2 linked regions of the Homo sapiens genome follow. The gene in region 1 interacts genetically with each later gene. Each region holds a gene or a part of one and is shown on either strand. Other genes may lie near its edges. The genes, in order: RAX and PAX6.

What was found.
Region 2: of RAX (region 1) and PAX6, changing one enhances a phenotype caused by changing the other (phenotypic enhancement), as found in Homo sapiens cells (one study listed by BioGRID).

The regions. Positions count from the first base shown.
Region 1 is NC_000018.10:59,267,417-59,280,682, reverse strand, and holds the start of RAX (retinal homeobox protein Rx), read left to right. Parts: upstream 1-7,228; 5' UTR 7,229-7,476; coding exon 7,477-7,765; intron 7,766-8,068; coding exon 8,069-8,322; intron 8,323-11,181; coding exon 11,182-11,679; 3' UTR 11,680-13,266. UniProt on the Homo sapiens protein: Plays a critical role in eye formation by regulating the initial specification of retinal cells and/or their subsequent proliferation. Binds to the photoreceptor conserved element-I (PCE-1/Ret 1) in the photoreceptor cell-specific arrestin promoter.
Region 2 is NC_000011.10:31,794,323-31,801,336, reverse strand, and holds part of PAX6 (paired box protein Pax-6), read left to right. Parts: exon of another isoform or gene 1-107; intron 108-480; coding exon 481-646; intron 647-675; exon of another isoform or gene 676-798; intron 799-6,548; coding exon 6,549-6,707; intron 6,708-7,014. UniProt on the Homo sapiens protein: Transcription factor with important functions in the development of the eye, nose, central nervous system and pancreas. Required for the differentiation of pancreatic islet alpha cells.

The sequences.
Region 1 (13,266 bases):
ACACCTGTAATCCTAGCACTTTGGGAGGCCGAGGCAGGCAGATCACCTGAGGTCAGGAGTTGGAAACCAGCCTGGCCAAAAAGGTGAAACACCGTCTCTGCCAAAAATACAAAAAAATTAGCCAGACGTGGTGGCACATGTCTGTAGTCCCAGCTAATCGGGAGGCTGAGGCAGGAGGACCACTTGAGCCCTATAGAGATGAATGGTGGTTTGCACCAGATTGGAGATGGAGAAAAGCCATCAGAATCTGTTTATATGTTGAAGCTACAGCCAACAGGATTGCCTGACAAATTGGGTGATAGAAAGAGAAATGGCTTAGAATTTGAGACACGTGAGTGAAACAGCCATTTACAGATATGAGGAAGATGGTGGTAGAACAGGTGCAGGAGGGAAGTCCTATTCAGAAACTCTGTTTCTAACATGTACTCAATACGCAAGCAAATGGAGATGCCTAACAGGCAGTCAATAAACTACAGGAGTCAGAAAGAGTTCCAGAGTAGAGTCAAGGAGAGCATCAAGAAAGTGAGTCTAAATAGGGAGCAGGACCTAGGGCTGGGCTGGGCATTCCAGCTTTCAGAGGTCAAGGACAAGAGGAGGAATCCAGGGAGGATACTGCCGAGGAGCAACCAGTGAGCTAGAAAGAAAACCAGAGGTTGTAGAGAACTGGAAGCCAAATGATTTTCAGTAGAACACTGCCTTGCTGTGAAAAAGACTAGAGCCAGCCAAACCCCTGGTGGGGGTTGGGTCAAGGCTGCTGCAAAATGGGCATCCTTGGATTTGCCTTCTTAGCACTCTAAGAGGATTGATAGGCTTCAAGACCATCATCCCCTCAAGATAAATGTCTTTAGTGCTTCCCCCTAGACACTCTGAATTCAATTAGTTTAATTAGAAAACAAGTAAAGAGGAATTATCTTAATATAGCTTTGCTCCTAACAACTCAAAAAAGTCCATTTATTTGGCAGAAATCCAAGTTCCCTCTTTTGTTTATATATTCTGAGATAATGATGTAAATTTTCATTTCTGAGTAAAAAGGTAGACGTCTCTCACCCCGTCAATCATGGTTTTGTTTTAGTTTTAATAATAAATAATAACAATAATAAACACTTCCTGATTTCCTCATTTTTAATGAGGTAGGAGCAGTAATATGCTAGTAATGTTTAAATATCATTTAGTTTTTAAGTTGAGAGGGGGACTGTCTGATTTTTAGTGTTTGTCAATTGCTGTGGTGAAATTACTACCACTGTGGCTGATTTCAAGCTACTAAGATGAATCACTGAACTCAGAACTGGGAAGATGCTAACCATAAGTTCTTACAAGCCAGTAGGGGCTGATTCCAGCACACCAATGCGTAGCAATATTAGCTGTTTGCCAAAAATCCCTGCAAATCTATTGCCAAGGGAATTTTTCCTCTTACCGAGAGGCTACTTGAACTTGCATCAGTTGTAAAAGCAAGCTCAGAACCAAGATAATTGGGTTGGTAAGTGACGGGGGAGTTGTGTGAAGAGTAACTTCATTGTGTTTGTACAACAAATATATTCCTCCACAATTCATGCACTGACTTTCTCTAACTATAAGCGTGGGGCATCTGAGTGTAACAGCCTGAGAGCTCAGCATGGCGGTGCTAATGCCAGAGTGCCCAGTGGACACCCTGGGAGTCTGGGACCCGGCCTCCAGTCCAAGCCCTAGTACAAACATTCTGTCTCACCTTGGGCTAACTGCTTAATTTCTCTGGGCCCACACATTTTTCACATCTAAAATGTTAAAATGGGGGCTAGAAATAAGAGAACAGAACAGATAATCATCAAAGTTCGTTTTCTAAATCTTCAATATACGATCCCCTGAAATAACAGGACACTAAGTGGGAGGGCAGTTTTAAGTGATGCTGTTTCCAAAAATATCATAATTGGGAAACAATGGAAATTCCCAAGGAGGAGACTTCTTGCTAATTGCTGGATGGTCTGCAGAGAGCTGTGGTCCCTATTTTTAAGTGAAAGGAAGGCTTTCAAACAGGGTATTACTGCTGGGAAACAACAGCTCTCAACTGCCCTTCATTTCGTCTTGTGACGAGATGAAATGCTTGCTTCCATATGCCCATCTGCGAGGGCTCTCAATTAAACCCATAATGTCTACATGAGGCCCATCTCTTTGTTGGTTTATGGTCTTTCAGCCACGATTATCTGATGGGGTTATTATTCACTACACTATCCTTATATCAACATTTGCTTCAATCTAGTCTGAAAATACTAGAGAACATCCAGATTGTCATAGTAAGAGGTAAACTACTATACTGGAAATGTCTTTATCATATGTGTCAAGGTCATATATTTATGAAAGTGGCCAAGGATATTCATTGTTAGTTGCCCGCATGTAAAAATGGGGTTCTGGTAGGCACCTCTAAGAACATTTTTCTGATATACCTTGTGGGTTGCTTCAAGTAGCTAATGTTTCATAAATGAGGGAGATCTGGTAGTGAGAGATGAACAAGCATAGTGTATTTTATCTCTGGATGCAATGTCAGTATTTAAAAGAGCTTAGCTAGTGATATTTTTGCAACCATTGCCAGCAACTCGCCCATGATATGCAATATATAATACAATATAGGGGAGAATTCACAGCATCAAAGGCCAATGCTGAAAAATATCTTTTAGATGCTTAAATATATATTGTTCACAAACCACTGAGAGTGATTTGAAACTCAGAACAGAGAAAACTCCCTAAGCTTCATGAGATAGCCTTGGAAAGTTGAATGGCATACTTATTATTATTTTTTTTTAGCAAACCTGTAACCATCTTAAATGACTTAATAAATTATAGGCCATCCACCATACCTTTCTCATCCCCACATCACTCTGAACTATATTATTCTTGTTACCTTTGACTCCCAAATTTTCTTGCTTTAATTTATCTGCTGGTTCTCTTATGGCCACTGGAGAATTAATGGTGCATGTTAATACACATACCGTGTTGGGGGTAGCACACATGGTGGGCAGAAGGAAGCATTCCTGAGTAAAACACCTAGGTTCAGATCCTGGCTCTACTTGAAACCAGCTGTGTGACCTTGGACATGCTACAGAACCTCTCTGTATTTCAGTTTCCTCATCTGTAAAGTAGGGATAATAATAGTGTCTACTGGCCAGGTGCGGTGGCTCAAGCCTGTAATCCCAGCATTTTTGGAGGTTAAGGCAGGAACATTGCTTGAGCCCAGGAGTTAAAGACCAGCCTGGGCAACATGGCGAAAACCCATCTCTACAAAAAAATACAAAAATTAGCTGGATGTGATGGCCTGCACCTGTAGTCCCAGCTTTGCAGGAAGCTGAGGTGGGAGGATACTTGAGCCCAAGAGGTTGAGGCTGCAGTGAGCTGTGATCATGTTACTGCACTCCAGCCTGGGCAACAGAGCCAGACTCTGTCTCTAATAATAATAATAATAGCAGCATCTACATCATAGGATTATCGTAAGAACTAAATTGGGCAATTCATGTAAAATAATACTCAAAAGCTTATGGCATATACCCACTGACATGTACTTAGCATTCAATAAATAGTAGCTCTTGTATGTATTCTTAACTCTTGACAACTGAATTTGTTGAACTTCAGTGTGTGTGTATGGTGTGTGTGCGTGTTTAGTGATTATATGAGTTGTGTTTTGCTCTGGCTAAAACTAAAAGTAAGTTGCCTTTCTTGCACGTGTATCAGCTAGTGGGAGGAGGAGGTCCTCGAATATGGCGTGACACAGGGGGAGTTATTCCAGGATTAAAATACATCTGCTATGGGGAAAATCTACATGCAGACAATCAAGTTTATTTGATACACTTTACGAATTGATATATCATAGGCCTTTCCACAGACATTTTCACCCTAATGTAAAACATCGCTGAGAGGTGAAATGACTAGAGACTGTGGCTGAATGTCCTTAATTCACCGCTCTCCCTCTCCTTCTCCGTCCAGTGCACAGGGATATGCATGTCTCCCCCGTGTTGTAGGTGAGACTGTTCATCCAGAATACTTCCAGAAATTGGACCTTCTCCATACAGCCACGATCAAGGAGTCGCTTTATACTACAACTTCCTCACGTTTGGAAATGTGTGTCTCCCAACCATCCGAAGTTTAATGGGGCTTTAGCTGTGTCTAAGGTTGGCCGCAGGTGGGGGATGGAAGGAGGGGTTTTCTTTGATCCATCTAATGAATTAATGAATTAATCAGAGGTGGGGTTCAGAAGCCAGGCTCCTTACTGTTGCTGAAGCAGGGCTGATTATGAGCTAGCCTAACTGCTGGAAAAATGCAGCTTCATGCTAGAAGAATTAGGGACATGGCCCAGTCCATTCATCTTCCCTAATCGAGTTCTTGGGAAATACACACGTAGATTAGCCCCTAACAATGACCCCCGGCTGATTGCTTGGAGTACCCTCCACCGTGCCCACAATGGTACTGACTAGCTCTTTATGTCCTGCACAAAGGAAGCCCCAACTCCCCCTTGTCCTCCTCTGCCCTGTCTCCCCCACCCCCATCACCACCACCCCTGCCCTCGCCAGTGGCTGTTGAAGTCTTTTCTGCTTTTTTCCCCAGACTCTGAAACAAACAGTAAATAAAAGCTAACCTCACCTGGACTTATTAGGAGGAGCTGGGCAGTTCCAGAGGAATTAACTTTGGAAAACAAGGCCATAAACCCCTTAGCAGCGTGTGGGCAGGAGCTTAAGGAAACGCTGCCAATCTTTGTTTAGCGGTGATTATCGAGATCAATTTAATATTGGGGAAGTTTGCATAAAAAGCATTCTCGGTCAGAGGGGGAACAACAAATACCAATTAATTATCCCCACAGCTGCCCTCTGATCACCACCACCTCAGCACGTCAGCCACCTGGTCTATGTCACTGGCAGTCAGACCTTTTCGGGTGCCACCAGGCCATTTGTGGGCCCTGGAAAGGTGGAGGAGGGGCGGAGGAGGAGGCAAAACCTGGTCTGTCAGGGGACTTTCCAGAGGGTTTGTTAATTTGCCCTGGATGCCGGTACCCAAAGCCCACTCTCTATAGGCTCTGACTTTATTTCTTCTGGGAGCTAAACTGCTTCTACCTCCGCCTCTTAGATGCAGAATCCAGTCTCAGGGAAGGATTAAAGACAGACTGCAGGCTAAGATGGGCTTTGATTCTTTTCAAAAAGATCACACACTACAATAATAATTACAAATGAGCTGCAGGCAGAAAACACTGGACAAGGAGTCAGTGGCCTGAGTTCTAGTCCTGACCCTTCCACTTAATAGCTGTATCACTTTGAGCCTCAGTTTCCTCTTCTGTAAAATGGGGACCAATATGTCTGTCCTGCTCACCTCACAAGGTTGTGAAGATCAGATGACATGAAGAATGTGAGAAGATTCTGAAACCTACAAAGTGACATGTCGAGAGAATTGCTTGAGCCCAGGAGTTCCAGGCTGCAGTGAGCCACCATCATGCCACTGCACTCCAGCCTGGGCAACAGAGAGGGACCCTGTCTCTAAAATAAACAGACAAATAAATAATAAGTAAATAAAGTAATATGTGAACACTGTAAAGTGCTATTAACTTTCATTAATTTTAGCTTTTTTCTTAAAAGATAATTTCTGACTTGAATTAGTTCAATTTCTATCTCCTGCAGTCACATGCTTGCCCTTATTTTAGTTTGCCATTATATAGTTTTATTAAAAGTAGATATGCCCATCATGGGGAATTAACCATTGAATGATCCTTAAGAAATTGACTTGTCCTCCGCAAACATCCTTCTAACACCAATTTAAAGGTTGGGGATCTGAGGATGTGTGTTTTCCCTCTTCCTTTGTCTTGTCTTCCAGACTGGACGTTAAACTCCACCAGGCCAACGGCCCTGGCCTTTCCCAATTTGTTTGATGCCCACGACGTGGCCCTCGACGGTTGCCTTGCCCTCTAAAGGGACGCAGCAAACGCTTGTCTGAACGCAAGCGGGATAAAGAAGACACCCCTGCTGTGGAGATCAGAGCGCCTACTGAAAAGGAGATTTTAGGGATATTGTCCTCTAGGTCCTTGAGCTTTTATAGGAAAGCATTTTAATTCACGGTTCAGGCCACCAGTTCAGGGAAGGCCAAGCGCTCGCCTCGGGTCTCGCCTCAGATTTGAGGGGTGAGACGTTCACAGCGCCATTGTCCATCCGCGCTGCTGGAGGTGAAACACACTCACCCTATCCAATCATCTTTCCAAGTGGCCGATCAGTCACTGTGGGCCACGGAAGCCTCGAGGGGGTCCAAAGGAGAAAGAACTGCAAGCCAATTACTCCTGAACCCTCGGGGAGGCGAGAGGCCTCTTCCCCGGGAGAAGGTCCTTCCCCAGCCAGCTCTGGGCCATCTCCTTGGCCCGGAGTGTTGGAGGGAGGCGGGAGTGCGACACCGCTGCTCATCAGTAAAGGAGCCCGCCCTCCCCGCAGGACAAGGGGCGGGAGCGAGGAACTCCAGGTGGGTCTCCTGCGGGACCTGAGCCCGGCAGCACATCCGACTCGGGGCTCCCAGTCTCCTGCTGGGCGATCGGGCGCTAGAGGTCACCGGACTTGCGGACATAAATGGCCCTGGGGTGGGCGCTGCGGGGAAGGAGGGAGGCTGCCGGCGCTCAAGTCCGAGGGGACTGGGAGGAGTTACAACAGATATAGACGGACAAACTAAACGCGAGGTCCGGGACTTCGTACAACCCAGCCAAGAAAGGAGTGGGTCCCGAAAAGGGAGCCAGCGAGGGGAAATTCAAACTGCGACGAGTGCGGGGCTGGGAAGCCTTCGGCTGGGTCTCGGCGCTTCCAGGGGGCACAGGCCAGGGTGGCGGCCCCGCGGAGGTGAGCCAGAGGGGGCTAGAGGGGCGAGTCTGAAGCTGGGGAGGGGTGCGTCCAAGGAGGGAGGTGACCCCCAGGGGGTAGTCTGAAGTGAGAGGGTAAGCCCGAAGTAGAGGGAGACAAACGCAAGGGGAGAGATGAGCCCAAGGGCGTCGGCCCCACTGAGGCAGGACTAGGGGTGCGCCGCGACCAGGTTCCCGAGCCCATCAGGCATCCCGCCGCGGATCCCCGGAGTGTGTTTGTAAAGCTTAAAACGGATCAAGAGGTGGAAGGGGAATATTCCTAGTGCCGGCCCAGGGGTGGCCACTAGAGGACCCTGTGGCTGGGCCGGGTGAGGACACGCCCCTCTGTGGAGGGAGGGGCCGAGAGAAGGGGCTGGGTCCAGGGCGAGAGGGGAGGAGCCGAGGGCCAGTTGGCTCCCCGCCTTTAGCGCCGAGAGCCCCAGCTACCCCGAGCCCGAACTTCCGACTTCTGGGACTAAGGCGGCAGCGGGCTGAGCGCTCGGCCACCCCCAGCGTGCGCAGCCCGGGCGGGCTTCGCCCGCGGAGCTTGACCTAGGGTCGGGACCCGTCGGGTTGCACCGCCGCACTCGGGAAGACCCGGCTTCGAGCCTCTCCTCTCCGTCTCCAAAGCGCCCTCCCGCCTCCCGGCGCTCCCCATGCACCTGCCGGGCTGCGCGCCAGCCATGGCCGACGGGAGCTTCTCGCTTGCCGGCCACCTGCTCCGCAGCCCGGGCGGGAGCACCTCGCGACTTCACAGCATCGAGGCCATCCTGGGGTTTACCAAGGACGACGGGATCCTCGGCACCTTCCCGGCGGAGCGGGGCGCCCGGGGCGCGAAGGAGCGGGATAGGAGGCTGGGCGCGCGGCCCGCCTGCCCCAAGGCGCCCGAGGAAGGCTCCGAGCCCTCCCCGCCGCCAGCCCCGGCGCCCGCCCCCGAGTACGAAGGTGAGTGCGCACCCCTGGCTGTGCGAGGCCGTTCGGGCGCCCGAGCTTAGGAGTTGGCCAGACGAGAGCGCCCCTTCCTTAACTTTTATTAAGGCAACTGGGCGCGGGGTTGGGGACCGTCTATGGCGGGAGCTTCCAATTTGCATTCAGAGAAAGCTTAGGACCCATCGCCGCCCTCACCACGGACCTCCCCGGGCCATCTCGGAGCCCGCAGGCGGGCTGGCCAGTGCCCACAGCGAGGCGGGGTCGGCCCAAGGGTGTTTTGGGGAGTGCATCTGACCCTCCCGGGCCTCGTCGCCCCAGCCCCTCGACCCTACTGCCCCAAGGAGCCCGGGGAGGCACGGCCGAGCCCAGGGCTGCCCGTCGGGCCAGCCACCGGCGAAGCGAAACTGTCAGAGGAGGAACAGCCCAAGAAAAAGCATCGGCGGAACCGCACGACTTTCACCACGTACCAGCTGCATGAGCTGGAGCGCGCGTTCGAGAAGTCCCACTACCCGGACGTGTACAGCCGCGAGGAGCTGGCCGGCAAGGTCAACCTACCAGAGGTCCGGGTCCAGGTAAAGCGCCCAGGTTGAGGAACTGGGATCTGGGAGGGCCCGAGGCCCAAATTGCAGCCAATGCTTCTCGGAATTCACGGGTGTCCATGCATTTATTACTGTCCTTCCTCGACTTGGCATGCCCAGAGTCTCAAGGGAGAGGCACAGATCTTCGATGTTCCCTGTGCATCGCCCTTCAAGCAGTCTGTTCCAGTTTGTAGTACGAGCTCCCCTTTGGGGGTTTCCCTCTTCTAAACTCAAAATAGAAGATGGGAATGACTTGCAAGATGAAGAGGCCGACAGCTCATTAGACATAGCCAGGAAGGGGTTGGGGGTTGCTGAGTGGAAATGGAATGCAGGTAGTGATCGAGGGTGACAGGATTGGGGCCCCAAATGCCACCCTCGTCACTAGCTGCGAATACCGAGTTGGAAACGAAAACCCTGTTTCCTTGCGAAGGGCCTGGCACCTCGCAGTTGAAACTTCGGGTGGATTTATTTAAGAAACTGACTTTTCCTTTTCTGGTGCACATCCAACCAAACTTCTCGCTGCAAAGGCCTTTTCTTTTTATTGTAAAGGGGTTTTCGCTTTAATTAAAGCTGAATTATCTTTAATCCCTGATCATTAAAATATTTGAAAGCCTTAAATATTTGCTAGTCATCTGTGAAAAATCTGGGAGGATTTCCAAATTGGGAGAGTTTACAGAGGGCTGAAAGAGAGACATTGGGAACAAATTTCACTGCATCTGAAAGGCAGTGGAACTAAGATGGGATTTTTGTGTGTGTCTAATAAATTAGATTTCCAGGAAATGAGAACACTCAAGTGTTCGGAGCTTTTATCCATGTCTTAAAAGTAAAAGAGGACAAGCTGCTGCTTTTTCTTTTCTGCTTAGTTTAAGAGTTGAAAGTAATGAGTAAAAGTCATGGCTTAAAAAATATAATTCCCTAATGTGACTTGGGATTAACCAGCAAGGACAGTTCAATGTCTCCTAATTTGGGGCAGTAAAGCTGCAGTGATTTCACTGAAGGGGTGGAAATTTTATCACCTGCTTTCAAAAAAAGAAGGATGGGAGAGGGAATGAATACAAGAGAAAGAGTAGAGGCAAAGCCTTCCAGTACCCTACAGAATCCAAGCAAAGCAGACTCAGCTCCCTGGGCACTTGAGCCCACCTGCATCCTCCCTCATTACTTGTTCAGGAGTTTTGGCTTCTCCTCTAAGTTGTGAGATTCTTGAGAACAGTGTCTGTGACTTCTTTGTGACCACAGGGCCAGCACAGCACCCAGCATATGGCCATTCTTAACACATGACTATGATGTAATCAGATGGTAGAGATACTAGGCAGGATCTCCCACACCGAGGGCAGCAGTAGAGCATTGCAATAACCGACCTCAATCCTTCAGTCTATAACCTGGGACACTAGATCTGAAGGCTACAGCTGATGTGGTAGGGAATTGAGTGGGACAGACAGGGAAGCCGAGAAGGTGGTGGGACAGGAGCCCTCACCCAAATCAGTGTTTCTTTTCTCTACTGTTGGCAAGTATCTAATATTTAAGGGAGACTTGAGGCCTTAGATATGCAGATGAATCTTTTCTAGGATGGTACAGGGTACTTACACTTTTGTTGTTTCTCTTTTTCTCCCTAATTGCAGCCTCTCACACACTTGCCCTGCGGTGCTTGGGTGCTGGATTGCTGTTCTTTCAGCTCTCCTCGGGGGTCCCCTGCCCTTATTGACTGAAAACTACTTTCTCCCTTCTGAGGTTGCAACAATCTCCCCATTTCCCTTCATAAATATAGCACTAAAGCCACCAGTTTGGCTGAAATTCTTTTGTGTTCTCTACTAAACGGATTCTCTGTCTTGCCTGTGAAGGTGGAACTGGTAGTAAAAATGTAATTACACATATTCCAGCACTTTTATCAAATCAGTAATGAAGTTTCATTGGAAGAACCCGACGTTACTCTTGGCAAGGACTTCGTACAGATAAAGAAGAAGAAGCAAAAAACCTTGTCATTGAGCTAAGGTCTTAGGGTAATGTCAAAATTAACTTTGTAATGTAAAAGTAGATATAATAGACTGGAATGATTGTACTCCTTGAAAGTAATAACAAACAGCAGAAATAGTAAGCAGACATTAATTAAATAAAAATAAAAATATTAAAGCAGCAATTCAAATATGGTTGGGGCAAAATAAACCCCACTTGCTCCTATCTAGTTATCATAACCAGTAATCCGTGAAAAGAGCTGAATTTTAACGCCCATTCTTGCCAATTACTCTACTTAACAATATTTATTTATACCTGTATTTAGAGACAAAGGGTAGGTAAAGCAGAGAAAGTCTGAGACCAAAATACAGCAACTTAGATCTGTACCATACAGAGAACAAGCAAGTCTAAACTGTTAGGAGGGGCTGCCAACCAGAAGGTCACAGAAAATTGGTGAGATCTCGTTTCAAAGTTCTACGATTCGATTGCGGAGTTAAATTCACTTTTTTTTTCTGAGCTTCTGCTACGCACTAGGAGTTGGAAACAGATACAACCACAGCTATGGATAAACAGAGAAAAGGGTGGGACGCCACGGAGGACTAGGATGGGACAAAGAGACTCAGAAGAGGCGATAATGGAGAGAAGAGGCCAAAAAAAAAAAAAAAAGAGAGAGAGAGAGAGAGAGAAAGGGGATGGAAAAGAAAAGAGAACGCGGGGTGGGAGGAGTAGGAGTGGGTGGAAGGAAGGAAGATCCGGGCCTCTCTCGGCACATGCATAACAGTTGCGCCCCTAGTTTTATTTGAGGGGGACGGAGTGGAGCCCGCCGAGCTGAACCGGCTCAGGGTTGGGGACGCGGCCGCAGCCTCCGCTGCTGCCCGACGGCCCCTGTGCTCTCTCCTGCAGGTGTGGTTCCAGAACCGACGGGCTAAGTGGCGGCGGCAGGAGAAGCTGGAAGTGTCCTCCATGAAGCTGCAGGACTCGCCCCTCCTCTCCTTCAGCCGCTCCCCGCCCTCCGCGACGCTGTCGCCCCTCGGGGCGGGCCCGGGCAGCGGTGGCGGGCCGGCTGGGGGCGCGCTGCCGCTGGAGTCCTGGCTCGGGCCGCCGCTGCCGGGCGGGGGCGCCACGGCGCTGCAGAGCCTGCCGGGCTTCGGGCCGCCGGCGCAGAGCCTGCCTGCCAGCTACACGCCACCGCCGCCGCCTCCGCCCTTCCTGAACTCCCCGCCGTTGGGCCCCGGCCTGCAACCTCTCGCGCCGCCGCCGCCCTCCTACCCGTGCGGGCCCGGCTTCGGGGACAAGTTCCCGCTGGACGAGGCGGACCCGCGCAACAGCAGCATCGCGGCGCTGCGTCTGAAAGCCAAGGAGCACATCCAGGCCATCGGGAAGCCGTGGCAGGCCCTCTAGGGGCACTGGGGAACGTCTTGGGATCCGACCCCGGGCCGACCGCACCGTACCCGCATCCTCTCTCCCAGGGACAACCCCCCTCCCCAGCTCGGCCCCTCTTTCCCTGTCGCCTGCAGCCACCCGCCAAGCATAGTTCAGGGCCACGCGCCTGCTCCCGATGCACGGGGAGAAGGGCGACTTTCAGGCCTGAGGAGAGGCCCTCTGGCCGCCTCAACGCACTTCGCGGACCTCAGCCCTGCAGCTGGAGGGCAACAGGCTGCCGGGCCCCGCTGGCCACGCCGCTCCCATCACCGCAGGCGCTGGAGCCTCCAGGCCCAAACAGGCTGAAGCTCCTAAACTTGGCCATTCCCAGGAGGCTTGGAGACCCCCAGATAACCATAACAGGGAAGCAGGGGAGGCGGAAAAATAGAGTTTGAGAAACTTTTGTATAAGTAGTTTCAAACTATTTGAGAGGAGAATTAAAGACATGCTTGTTTTGTTTCGACTCTGTTTAAGCACGCTCAGGACTTGGGGAGAGGAGTGAATATTGGGGTACGGGAGGAGGGTGCGTTGACGGACAGGGTGGGTCAGGGAAAGAGGAGGACTGAGAAGAAGCTCAGGGTTTCCTTGTGAAAATTCTAGGGACACTTCGCTGCAGCAGAGAATCGTCCCCATTCCGAACGCTTCGGCGGCCTAGACCAGAGGCGCCCTTCCCTGGAGCCGGCGTGCGCGCTTGGGGTCCGGAGTGGATGGGGCTAAGGCTCAGATGCTAGCGCGCTCCCAGTTCCCCCGCTAGCCCCATAGTCCAGCGGCAGCTGATATTTTCAAGTTTGACTTCAATAGAAAGCGTCAAGACCACCTTCCCTAGGGCGAGAGCGAAGTGTCCCCCGGCCCCTGGCGTCCCCGCTCTCCTAAGGACTCCTCTCAGTTCACCAAGCAGATCTCCGGTTCGGTGCCAGTCCCTAACACCCAAGGTTGATCACCAGCGGTACAAGAACTGAGGCAAAGAGATGCTTTTCCTTTTCGGAGCCGCGAGACTCTCTAACCTCCCCAACTCGCTCCACACTCGCCAACCCAGAGTTCGGTAAAAGGCGCGTCTGGTGAGGTGCCGCGCTCGGAGAGTGTCCTGGAGCGCCCTACGCCACCGCCCCGAGAGCTAGTTCTTGCGGGCGTGCCCTGGACAGTATCTGCAGTTCTTTGGCGCCGGCTCTAGGGCGAGGAAGGAATCTCGAAATCTCAGCCCGCTTCACAATCTCCTGAGACTCTCTGAAGAAGGAGAGTCCCGGACTCCCGCCTGAGCGTGCTCGATATCCACCGTTGACACTGGAAGCTGGGCGACCGCCAGCAGAACCTGGATGCCCGCCAACAGGTCCTGGCACGGGGGGGGGGGGGGCGTCCACCCCACAACCCCCGTCCCTAAGCGTGCTTTCAGGATGATGCCCCCAGAGCCTTAATTAGCATCAACTGGCTACTGTCTGTCGGTCCTGAGCAAATTAGTGAAGCTCCCAGTCCCCTTTCCTCGTCTAAATAAACTCTGTCTCTCTGGAAGGTGGGAAAGATGGAATAAGATCACCTGTAAAGGCTTTGTGGAAAGTACCAAGACCCTGG
Region 2 (7,014 bases), on another chromosome or scaffold:
TGCAAAACAGAGGGCGGAGGCACCAGGGAAAGGCACTTGAATGAAGAAGGAAAATGAGAACCAGATTGTAACTTCGTCCTAATCCACCTGCCAGAACTTTCCTTCAGGTGTCACACATCCATTTCCATCCTAATATTAAACAATATAATGAAAGAAAGCTTTACAACAAGTCTAAATAGTTTTTATTTTCGGGCAGTCTTTTAACAAAGCAAAGCAACCGTGTGAGTTAGGTCACCAGAGACACCAAGCAATGGTGAAGGACCCCCTCCGCCCAATTCTCTATCCAACTAAATTTCCATGCCCAAAGTGATAGCTATCATTTTTTCCACGGTGTATCTGCAAATCCACCCACTGTCCCGGGGTGGCTGGGAGCTTTTTAACGGGTTGAGAGTTGCTTTTTAAGGTTGTGGGTGAGCTGAGATGGGTGACTGTGTCTTCAGGAGACACTACCATTTGGTTTGATTTTGGTTTGATTTGCAGGTGTCATCAATAAACAGAGTTCTTCGCAACCTGGCTAGCGAAAAGCAACAGATGGGCGCAGACGGCATGTATGATAAACTAAGGATGTTGAACGGGCAGACCGGAAGCTGGGGCACCCGCCCTGGTTGGTATCCGGGGACTTCGGTGCCAGGGCAACCTACGCAAGGTAAAACCCAAGCAGCCATCCACGCAGCTCTCCATATGTGCATCCCTTTGCCTGTCCCCTACTCTCCCAACCATTTCCTCTCAGGGCTTCCATGCTTGGGGAATGTCATGGGTGAGACTGCATTTGAAGGCCTGGGACACATCGACCACATTGTATGTAGGTGGTGTTTGTTGAACCATTTTGTTGGCCTGGGAATGTGAGGGTTGTGTATGTCAGGAGCGGTATGAAGGTGGCTGGTGGGTGCGTGTGTGTGTTTGTGGGCAGCACTGTGTGCATAAGAACGAGCTGCGTGGTGCACTATTCAAATTTGACATTAGAATGCAGGGAGAGCCCCCTTGTAGAAGTGTGACAAGATAACGCACTGACAGACTGCGAGGTTAACATAATTGTATCCTGTTGCTTTTTGCTGTAATTGACAAATTATGTGACTATGAGTAGGGTGCACATGAAAAGGTGAGCAGGGAGATGCAGGGCGAGTCGGGGATGGGGCATTGGAAGTGGTGGTCTCCCAACTAAAACCACCCCACTATCCTTGCCCCTCCCCCGTTCGCCCCTCTGGGTCCCACTTTCTCACTCTCTGTGGGTGGCGACTATGTGGAAGTGGTGAGGTGAAGATACTGTGAGCAGGACGGCGGGATGCCGGGAGCCGCTCTGGTCTGGGAGGAGAGATGGGACCTGAAACACCCCAGGTTCTGTGAGAAGGGCTGGAGGAAGAAGAGCGGGGGATGGGGGGGGTGGGGCGGAGGGGAGGGTCAGTTGGCTCCCCTCCGCTCCCCTCCACACCCCGAGGTAGCTTGGTCAAGAATAGGAAACAGTTTACTCCGAAGATTAATCGGTATTTGTTGTCCTCGTGACAAGGAGATAATATGCGGGATAATGGGACGTGGCGTCTCACTCCCAGGAGCACAACGGAGCCGAGGGGCTCGGGGCCAGGGGCGGCGCGCGGGACTGCGAGGAGGCTGCCGGCGCATCCGTGAGCTCTCGGACCGGCTCCGGATGCCCGGCGCCTCCATGGAGTCGGGCGAGGGAAGGGAAAATCGGTAACAGTATGCGAAATATCTGGTACAAAGGATGCTTCTGTCACTCGCAAGAATTTGTTATGGGAACAATCCTGTCGCTCTGTAATTGCTCATTAGAGAACGTTTTGTTTCTCATTAAGGCGACATGAATAAGCGTCTAGTTGAAGGAGACAGCTGTAGAAATGTTCCACAAGAGACCTCTGGACACGATTCGGCACCAATTGCCAATTAGACATGTCAGTTTTAAGAGCAGAAAACAATATAGGACGGACACTGGGAAGATAGGGAGCAAAGCGCTCGCTTCTTGTTTCCCAGCGCGGCCGCTCGGCCGGCGGAGGCCTCCTGACGCGCGGGGCCCGGGCTCCCCTGGGCGACCCCGCCCGCACGGGCCCCGAACCCGCCGCCTCCGCGAGCTCAGAGGGCCCCCAGGCCCGCTCCCGCCTCTGGTGAGACTAGCGATTGACCCCACCGAGTGTAGGCAACCCCATCCCTGCCTGACTTTTGAAACCGTAGGATTCCCACTTGTAGACACTGGACACACCCAAGTGACACCCGAACTTCGCACTCACGAGCGTCCACCCCTCCGCCCCCAGCAATCTGAGGTCCTGGTGATCCCTCCCCTGACAAGAGTCTGGCCCACTTAGTCCGAGAAGTCTTGGGGAGGGACTCAGGGCACGGTGGCCTAGGCCTGGGAGGGCTGAGCCCAGAGCCTCCACTCCGGGCTCTCCCCGGTGCGTGGGCTCCCATGAGCTTGGGGCGCAGGATACACCCCCCTTCCGCTTCTTGGAGTTGGGCAGAAGCCGAGGACAGCAGCTTCCACCAGAGGTGGCGCCCGATTCGGGCGGATTTTCGTCGCCGGCAGTCTGAGGGCGGGAAGTGAGAGTCAAATCAGCTAGGGTCCGCCTGTGATGGTTGGGGCCGGAGGTGGAGCTAGTCCAGGGGCTTTTCACTTTAACGCGCCTAGTTGCTAGAAAATTCTGGGTCAACTGGCAATCACCACCCCCCCACCCGCAAGTGAGGTTTTTGGGGGGTGATTGTCACCTCAGGCACAGGACCGTCGCCCCTAGTTGCGTGGGGAGGACACGTGGGCCAAACGAAGCACAGAGTTGCCGGCGTGGGGGTAGCGGGCACCGGTGGTGAGCTTCGCTTCACGTTCCCGGGGAATCCTCAGACTTTTTGGTGCTAAGAGGGTCCCCCTCCCTCCCTAGCCCCCTTTCCCAGCCCAGGAAGCCTTTCTTGGGTTTTAAAGAGTCCATACTCCAAAAGCATAAGGCGGGGGTTAGGTCTCAGAGGGAGACAAATATGGTTTCCATCTGATCAACGCCATGCGGCGGTGAATAAAATCGCGACGACGTGGGCTGACAACAACAAGAGACAACTCTATCCAGCCCCAATTCTCCGGCGATTTGGTGGTTTTAGGGATCACGGAGACACTTTTTCTTATCTCCTCCCCTCACCCCACCCCCACCCCCCATAATACCCAAGCCCTCTATAGGATTTAGTCAGCCTCTCTTTCAACAGATGCTACAATGTTTTGATCCGCGCTCCAGAGCTGAAAAGGTGCCGCAACCGGGTTGCTATCTTTTCTTGCTTGTTTTCCGCCTCACTGATTAAGACACTAAGAAACTAAGGAATGATTTTATTTCCCAGCAACTCTCTCTCTGTCTCTCTCTCTCTCTCTCTCTCTCACCTCCTTCCAGGAAACAAATCCTATTCCCATCGTCAGATGGTCCTGGGGCTGGGATAATGGGAGGCGCTTTCACTCGCTTTCTCACGGATTAGGCTGGAAGGTGAACGGCACCCACTGAAGGCCCCTGCTTTGCGCGGCTCCGAGGGGGCGCCTTTTGAAGAAGATATCTTAATTGTCCACCACTTAGGTTTATCGTGGGGGTGGGGGAGTCGAGATCCAACTTCTAGTTTTATTTTGTTAAAAGCTTTAAGAGTGGAAGGCAAATCCACTAAAGTGGGGGGAAATGTACCCATTTTATGTAAGAGCAGCCGCTAGGTCACCGCCTGGCTGCAAACAGTTGCCACTTCTAAAGTAATGAACTGTCTCCGTGCCGCTCTCCCCGCGGGGTAGAGAAGGGATCCTGCAGCGACAGGTTTCTTTTTGCTGTGGAATTCCAATCCCCGCTTCCCATCTTTTTTTTTTTTTTTTTTTTTTCCAGATTTAAAATTGAGCTCTACTGTCCCTGCTGACTTTTCTCTCTTAAGTGTCAGTTCTGGAGGCAGCACAGGGCCTGGCGGCGATCGCGTGCTGCCTGTGTAAACCCGTGTGTATGTTTGTGTGAGACAGAACATGGATAAGAATGTGAATCTCCATGTTTTAAAATTAAGAAAATGTCAAAGAGGCAAATGAGAGCAGAGCATGCTATCGGCGGGGTTCTTCGGAGGCAGATTCGGGCAACTTTGTTTAATTGGCGAGATCGAATGTGCCAGAAAAGGGACCGAGATGGGGCCCCTAGGAAGGCATGGGCATGAGTGGCCATGGGGAGATGGGCATTGTGTTCTCCTCAGTGTCCCCCACCCCATACCAGATGTGCACAGATTTTTGTCTGTTTTCCAAAAGCAATAACCCTCCGGCCTTTCTAGTTGGCCAAAAGGAGCTATTTCCAGTCTTCCTTCTTCACCAAACCCGAAAATAAAGCGAGGGGTGGGGGTGGTCGCTTCATTTCTTCCCTTGAAAAACGCTTTGAAAAGTCCCCGGAAACTTGGGGCAGTAAATTAGCACAGACGCTTGTGCCCGCACACGTGAGCGGAGCGCGTCTCCCTCAGCTAAGTAGCCCTCCTCGACCCCCACCTTTCTGATGGAGTGCAAAGACCCAGAGTCCAGATGGGGCTCAGTTACTAATATTCTCTGGCCCTCATCCTCCTTTTCCTCTCTCTCCCACTCTTGTTCGGCCCTCGTGTCTCTTTTTCCTCTCAGCATTCTTTTCTGTCCTTTTTTAAAAATACCTTTCTAGCCTCTATGTTTTTTGAGCCTTCTTTTCCCCTCCATCGCCCTCTTTTTCCCTCCATCGCCCTCTGTCTTTCCCCTAACCCAGGCCCCCCAATCCTTCCCCCTTGCTTCCACCCCCACCGCTGGTTTCCATCCTGCCTCCCCTCCATCTCCTCTATGTAGGAACCCAGCCCTGGTCCCCGTCCACTCTCCCTGCCTCCCCCCATGCTGGGCCCTGGCCCCCCCATCCACCCTCCATCCCCCCAGCCAAGCGCCCTAAATAGCACGGAGGCGCCCGCTCTTCGGACAGTGATTAATGATAGCAGAGCAGAGGGGTTAACACACTTCACTGAAAAGTCTGTTGACTGGGCTTCTTGTAACACAATGTGGCCCGCTGCACGCCTCAAGAGAATCCTTTTGTTGTCCGCGCTCATTGTAGCCTCAAAATTCTGCCCACGAAAGTTTGCCAACGCTCCTGCCCCAGGAGTTTAATAGTTTCCCTTACTCGCGGGGCATTGTGCAGCGCTGAAAAGCAGCCCCTCGCTATTCAAGTGTTGGTGGTCATCTCAATAGATCTCCAAGGGCCCATATGGTGGCCAGTGCCGATGAATCCGCCTGTTTAAATGGGGGAGAAAGTTGGGGTTTTAAAACATTTCAAAGTTCCTGAAAAGATCCCACTAGATCCTGTCACAATTCCCTGAACTCTTTGAAGGCGCAGCCTATTGTCTCCTGGTTATAAATAATATTCCTGGCCAAGTCGATTCCCACCAAGGCGCTCCTAGGGGCCCCTCCACCCCGCCTCTGGCCAAGTTTTGAGGATAGGGAGGTGGGTAGCCCATGCTGGTATCCCTTGGGGGTCATTTCAGGACCCCAGACCCAGGACCCAGCCTGTAGTGGCCCTGGAGGCCCAGTCAGAGTTTAGGCAATCCTGCTTCCCTTCACTGTGGCCTTACAGGCAAGGTGCAAGCCGGGAGCCAGCTAGCCCAAGTGCACATCTTGCCCTCCAGGCAGCAAGGGAAAACCATAAAACTTTCCCCCTGTATAATGATAGAAGTTACATTCAAAGTGGTGGAAATGCCCTAATTAAAAATGTACCACTTAAATGATATGCCAAAGATTCAGCTGCAGCATAGAATATTTAGCTAGTTAGTGAACTCTCTACTATTTCTTTTTTAAAATTACACGTTAAAAATTTAAAAGAAATCTTACTTTTCTCTGGTGCAACACATTACAAAGAATGGACAGTCCTTTTATCTAAATATAAAATTCCATTTTCAGCAATTATAGCCTGTTCTTGGTGATGATATAATTACAGCTGTGCTCGTAATAGGTGTCAAGGCGAAGCGCACTCATACAATAGTTGAATAAAACTGCAGAACAATGCGAGCACTTCTAAATTCACAACCTTTAAATGAAATTGACTGTGCAGAATTCAAATAAAAACTAGATAAATATTTTTTAAAAAAGATTACAAGCTTGGTTTGGTTTCTTAATAGCATTTTCTACAAACCTATCAACATCTAATTGATTAGATAGGAATTACTGATTATAGATCAACTGAAATCTTGAACATCACTCTTCTATTTTCCCAACACAGCCATAGGTAAAGAGATTCTGTAGGGAGTGGAGTGAGGCATTTGGGGAGTTGGGGTTACTTATAAAAGATCATTTTAATTGGAAACTTCAGTGCTTATTTTTTCATTCAAGAAATGCCACTTAGTGTGTGTATTATAAAGTCTCATCTTGATAAAAACAAAGAAAATGGTGGTCAGGTAACTAACATCGCAAATGTATTTTTTTAAAAGAAGGCTGACAGTTACCTTGGGAATGTTTTGGTGAGGCTGTCGGGATATAATGCTCTTGGAGTTTAAGACTACACCAGGCCCCTTTTGGAGGCTCCAAGTTAATCCAAATTTCTCTTACCATCCTATTCTTTTTGTTCCAGATGGCTGCCAGCAACAGGAAGGAGGGGGAGAGAATACCAACTCCATCAGTTCCAACGGAGAAGATTCAGATGAGGCTCAAATGCGACTTCAGCTGAAGCGGAAGCTGCAAAGAAATAGAACATCCTTTACCCAAGAGCAAATTGAGGCCCTGGAGAAAGGTGATAGAGTTTTTCAAAGTAGAGAAGCAGTAAATCAAAGTAAATGCCACATCTTCAGTACAAAGAGCTAAATTTAGCCAGGGCCCTTTGCATAGAAGAATGAAAAGATTTCCTTTTTTCTGTCTTTTTATTTCTCTGGGCATCTTTTCAGTGTGTGTGTGTGTGTGTGTGTGTGTGTGTGTGTGTGTGTGTGTGTGTGTGTGTGTGTGGTGTGTGTGTGTGTGTTTCTTCTTTTCATCTACCAGTAATTCAAAGACTAAATGTCTGACTTATAAGGAAAAATGATGATTTGGCTATTTCAGGCCAC